Regions from separate parts of the Homo sapiens genome. Here region 1 is linked to region 2. The links come from fine-mapping of genetic effects on gene expression. A gene starts in region 2. The other region holds a variant in brackets. All regions are shown on one strand. Distances are between the middles of the regions.

Region 1 (2,920 bases), 25 kb before region 2:
TTTTTTTTTGAGACAGAGTCTTACTTTGTCACCCAGACTGGAGTGCCGTAGTTCGATTTTGGCCAACTGCAACCTCCACCTTCCAGGTTCAAGCGAGTCTCCTGCCTCAGCCTCCCAAGTAGCTGGGATTACAGGCACCCGCCACCACACCCATCTAATTTTTTTTTTTTTTTGTATTTTTAGTAGAGACCTGGTTTTACCATGTTGGCCAGGCTGTGGTCTCAAACTCCTGACCTACGGTGATCTGCCCACCTCGGCTTCCTGAAGTGCTGGGATTACAGGCATGAGCCACTGTGCCCGGCTCATAGGCCATATTTATGACCCATTTACTAACAGGCAACAAGCTAAGAAGTATAGAAATGCTTACTAATTACTTAACCTATGAGGTATGTGCCACCATCATTTTCATTTTAAACAAGAGGAAACCAAGGCTGAGGAAGATTAACTTGCCAGTGGTTGTCCAGCTAGTACTGAGACAGGATTCAAATTTAAATGGGATTCAAAATCAAATTCTGATTTCAGTAACTTCTCTCTTTTTGTTTTTAGTTTTGTACTTTAATTTTATTTCTAAAATTTTCATATACTAAAATTGACCTTTTTTGTTTTGGTTTGGTGTACAGTTTTATTTATTTTAACATACGTATAGATTCAAATAACTACCCCCAGTCAGGATACAGAATAGTTCCGTCACTCAGCAAAACTGCCGTGTGCTATTCCTTTATAGTCACACCCTTGTACCCCTGACCCTCAATCCCCAGCAGCCAGGAGTTTATTCTCTATTGCTATAGTTTGTCTTTGAGAATGTCATTCAAGTAGAATTATACAATATATCATCTTTCTAGAAGAGATTGTATTAAGTTGGTATTTGCTTTATGTGTTTTGAAGCTCATGCATTCGGCTATGTTGGATCTTATTGGTTGATTGAGTCTTTTATCATTATGTAATGTCCTTCTTTGTCCCTCATAATTTTCTTTGTCCTGATGTTGATTTTGATAGTAATATAGCCACTCTAGCTTTCTTTTGTTTAGTGGTTGCCTGGTATATTTTCTTCTGCATTTTACTTGTAACTTAACTGTACTAAAAGATTAGGAGTTTCTTAGAAATAGCCTATAGTTGGTTCATGCATTTTTATATATTCTCATAATCTCTTTTAATTGATATGTTAGGCAATTTACATTTAATTTAATTGTATGTAGAGTTTAGGTCTACTGTTATATAGTTATTCTATGTGTTCCTTTTTTTCTGTTTCCTTTTTCCTGCTTTCTTTTGGATTATTAGAATATTTTTAGTGCTCCATTTTAGTTTATTGTGATTTTGACTGTATCTTTGTATAAT[G/GGTGT]GTGTGTGTGTGTGTGTGTGTGTGTGTGTGTGTGTGTGTGAAATAAAGTTGCTTGGTAAATAATGTGGTTTAAAGTAGCTGATTCTTTTCCTGTTATTTTGCTAATTTTGTTAGCAAAATATATATATGTATATATGTTTATATATACATGTACACACACACATATATATAAAGAGAGTTTGCTTTAGTGATTGCAGTATACTTATTTTTCAGTCTACCTAAAATCAATGCTTTACTACTTGAAAGTAAAAACCTGGGCCGGGCGCAGTGGCTCACACCTGTAATCCCAGCATTTTGGGAGGCTGAGGCGGGCAGATCATGAGATCAGGAGATCGAGACCATCCTAGCTAATACGGTGAAACCCTGTCTCTACTACAAATACAAAAAATTAGCTGGGCGTGGTGGCAGGCACCTGTAATCCCAGCTACTCAGAGACTAAGGCAGGGGAATCACTTGAACCCGGGAGGCGGAGGTTGCAGTGAGCCGAGATTACAGCCACTGCACTCCAGCCTGAGTGACAGAAAGAGACTCTGTCTCAAATAAATAAATAAATAAATACATAAATAAATAAAAGGAAGTAAAAACCTTATCACCATATAGATTCCCCTTTTCTATAATAGTTATCTTATATATTACTCCTCTATACATTGAAAAGAAACCACTAACAGATGATGCTGTAATTTTTGCTTACAACCCTGAGATATATTGCAAAGAATTCAAGAAGTGGCCGGGCGTGGTGGCTCATGCCTGTAATCCCAACACTTTGGGAGGACGAGGTGGGTGGATCACTTGAGGCCAGGAGTTTGAGACCAGCGTGGCCAAAATGGTGAAACCCCATCTCTACCAAAAAATAGAAAAAATTAGCCGGGCGTGGTGGTGCGCATCTGTAATCCCAGCTACTCGGGAGGCTGAGGCATGAGAATTGACTGAACCCAGGAGGCGGAGGTTGCAGTGAGCCAAGATCGTGCCACTGCACTCCAGCCTGGGCGACACAGCAAGACTCTATCTCAAAAAAAAAAAAAAATTCAAGAAGAGAAAAATAGTCTATTATATTTACCCAATGTTTACCATTTCTCTTACTATTCTCTTCTGGTATAATTTCCCTTCTCTCTGAAGAATTTTCTTTATCAGTTCTTTTAAAGCAGGTCTATTGACAGTGAAGTCTCTTAGTTTTACTTCATGTGAGAATGCCTCTATTTTGTCTGTTCCTGAAGGATATTATCAGTGACTACAGAATATGGGGCTCATGCTTCTATTCTTTCAGCAGTTTTAAAAGGCTGTGCCACTCTTTCTAGCCTAAATGGTTTCTAGTGAAAAATCTACATTCATCGGAGTTGCAGTTCTTCTATAGATAATGTATTGTGGTTCTGTCTGCTTTAAATAATTTTTCTTTTTATCCAATTTTGAACAGTTTGATTACAATATGTGGGGTATGGATTTCTTTTGTTTCTTTCTCTTGGGGGTTGGCTGAATGTATTAGTTTCCTGGGGCTGTCATAACAAATGACTGCAAACTGGGTGGTTTAAAACCACAGAAATTTATTATCTCACAGTTCTGGAGGCAAGAGGTCTGAAATTCAGCAGAG
Region 2 (2,920 bases):
ATAAAATGGGTAATGTGTGTGGATTTTTAGAAGCTGTCCAGGTGATTCCCAATGTTGCTGTACAATGAATTTTGGGAGCCACTATCTTAAACACTTACTGAATCACTTGTGGCATGATTTTTAAACCGAAATTCCTGTCCCTACCCTAGACTTCCTAACCAGAATCTCTGGGGTAGGGGATCCCTGGAACGTGTATTTAACGTTAAGCTCCATAGGTGATCCTAATGGCCAGCCAAAGCTGCAAATTATTAGCTAAGAACAAAGGAGAAATCTCTAAAATACGTGAAACTTGTCTTTGCCTGTGGTTCTCAAAACTTGCCCTCAAAATCAACTACAGGACTTAACTAAAATATAGAGTGCTGGTCCCACTCCCCTTCTTCTCCCCGCCCCACCCCCCCACCCCGTGTTTCTGACTCAGTCCTGGAGTCGGGCCCTAGAATTTGCACTTTTAACAGGTTCCCGGGTGATGCTGATGCTGCCGGTCCTGGGCGCCACACTCCCAGAACCGTTGCAATGTACTTAACAGTTTCCAGGTTAAGTACATTACAGTTATATATTAACAGGGGTGGGGCGAGAGAGCCTCAAAGGCCTAATTCATGCCTCTTTGTACGGAGGAACTGCTAATCCCAGTTTAAGCCCAAGAAACACGAGTAGTCCAATTTCCAGAGTTACCCTTGGCACATAAACCACATGTGGTTTGCAGAGTGAATGTATGAATAATACATTTTAAAAGCGTGTGTGCGCAGGAGGGTAAGGCAGACTGCTAGATACCCGGTTAGAGGCTGCGGACCTTTTTTTTTTTTTTTGGCGAGGTGCAGTTCATAGATCAGGGGTTTCACTCTGCAGCATGGTATAAGCACAATCACTAAGAACTGGATGCTACTTGCAGTTTTGTCACCAATTTCTTTGGTGACTTTGGGTGTTAAGTGACTGTTTTGAACCTCTCTCCTCTTAGGTAGATAATATCGGAAACCTCTTCCACCTACGACCCGCAGAGCGAGGGCTTGTCCCGGGATTTGTCTTGCACCCCCACCTCTCGCGTCTGCGCCACCCTGCGGGCGGCGCCGGCCCCTACCTGGCAATAGAGCCGATAAAGGGGTACGGCAGCGTAGGACGCCCCCAGCATGCCCACGGCGACAGCGGCCACGTAAGTGAGGGTCGTCTTGTTCTGCCGCCGCCGCTCCTCCTCCTGCGCGCGTGTGAAAGGGTTCGAGCTCTTAGGCCGCCGCGGCGGCTGCAATGCTGGATGCCGGGCTCGAAGGCTGCAGCGCTTCCATGTCCCAAGCCACCTCAGTCCTCTCTCGGCACCTCCTGTCCCACTCCACTCTGGCCTAAGAAACGGCTCTACCCTCTCTGCAGCCCTGGTTGGAGACCCAGGGTGGATCCAGCGCCAGCCACAGAAAGGAACGCACCTCCATCCAGGACGCCAGAGCCCTCCCATAACCCTCTGAACTAACACCCACCCGCCTCTCAGGGACGAGAGGTCAAATCTCGCGAGGCGTGCTCCGTCTCGCGAGATCTGGGTTGAGCCTGCCGCTGCCTTGGCTACCAGGCTCCTCAGGTGGCAGCGCTTGCAGTCGGGCTACGGAGGCCGGGTTGCCAGATTACGGGTAAGTTTGCGTTTTGCTTTGTGACTGTTACTCCCACTTCGCTTCTCGCCAGAACGTCTCTTAACATTTAGGAAAATGCGTTTCGCCCGTCCGCGTGCAAGCTTGCCATCACTTGGGGTTGCGCCTGTGATCTTTATTTAAACTCCACCAGCCTTTGTCTCGACCCGGCAGCCCCGGCGACGCTCTCCCGCGGTCTTTTCTCCTGGGGTCCCTTGGCCGCTGGCTCCTGTGCTCACTGCCCTGGACTTAGTTCAAGTATCACCTCTCTCAGGAAGCCTTGCTGTGTTAACCGCAGCCCTCATGGGCACCCACGACACCTGCATTTTCTCAGCCCGTGGGCAGTCGGCTTCCCCTGCTCTGATGCCCCTTACAACTTGCCCAGTGGAAAGCACCACAGCTGGAGCAGGAGGGAGGCTGTCACGCTGAAGTTTGTTCTGGAGAGAGTGACCAGGATAGGAGGGCCATTTAAGGAGAGACTGAAAGAAACGAACCCCGTGGGAGGATGTAATAGCTTTCTTCAGTTGTCCCACAGGACGAACTCGAGGGGGGCAGACAGCATAGCGGATTTTACTGTGTTAGAAGGAAGCATCTTTCTAGAAACTATAAAATAGCAGTTAAGAGCTCAGGTTCTGAGGTTAGGGGGTTCTGGATTTTTACCCGGGTCCTCACCATGGCCCTGTGCCCTTAGGTCAGTTACTTGTCCTCTAAGACCTGGTGTCCTTACTTGTAAAATGGAAATCAGAACAGTAAATGAATAATATTCATATAACGTCTTTCATGATGACTGAGGCATAGTAAGAATGTAGTTAAAAGTTAGGCTGTATTTCTACTTGCTACGTGGCCATTTCTAATGGCCAGAGCAGGTATAATTATCCCCACTATGTGGATGAGGAACTTGGAGGCCTGAGAAATTTTAACTAGTCATTCGACATTTTATTTATTTATTGCCCTCTCAACTGTGGGCCTGACACCAATCGACCTGCTGGCACTATAGCACAGAACAAGTCGGGAGATCACTTCAGTGATGGAGTGTCCTTTCTGCTGAGGGACTCAGAAAATAATCAAGTAACAGTTACCGAAATAAGGGAATTTCAGATAACAATCAGTGCAGTGAAGACAATGTAATAACATAGTATGATTGACAGTCATGAGAAGCGGTAGTAAAGTAAGGACGTTTTGAAGAGGTGACATTTGAGTTTAGATCTGAACGATGATAAGGAGCTACCTACTCAATAACAATTCCAGGCCAAGCAAAGGCCCAGGGGAAGGAAAGAGATAGAATGATTGAAGAACAGAAAGAAGGCCACTGT

The links. PIP is the estimated chance that this variant, and not a neighbour inherited with it, causes the effect.
Region 1: its variant is the best candidate, but not a certain one, in a credible set for the expression of COX11 in whole blood (INTERVAL, PIP 0.84).

Annotation. Positions count from the first base shown.
Region 1 is chr17:54,942,106-54,945,025 of GRCh38, forward strand. All of the region lies in intron 11 of TOM1L1 (target of myb1 like 1 membrane trafficking protein), which reads left to right. Among named protein-coding and RNA genes, the nearest start is that of COX11, 25 kb to the right of the region's middle. The variant G/GGTGT (reference allele first, on the strand shown) is at 1,336.
Region 2 is chr17:54,967,206-54,970,125 of GRCh38, forward strand. COX11 (cytochrome c oxidase copper chaperone COX11) reads right to left here and starts at 1,449. Exons shown (of 4, transcript NM_004375.5): 1 at 1,076-1,449. The coding sequence starts at 1,441. STXBP4 (syntaxin binding protein 4) reads left to right here and starts at 1,560. Exons shown (of 18, transcript NM_178509.6): 1 at 1,560-1,610. RefSeq lists enhancers at 519-1,468, 1,318-1,377, 1,388-1,467, 1,469-2,417, 1,648-1,747 and 1 more.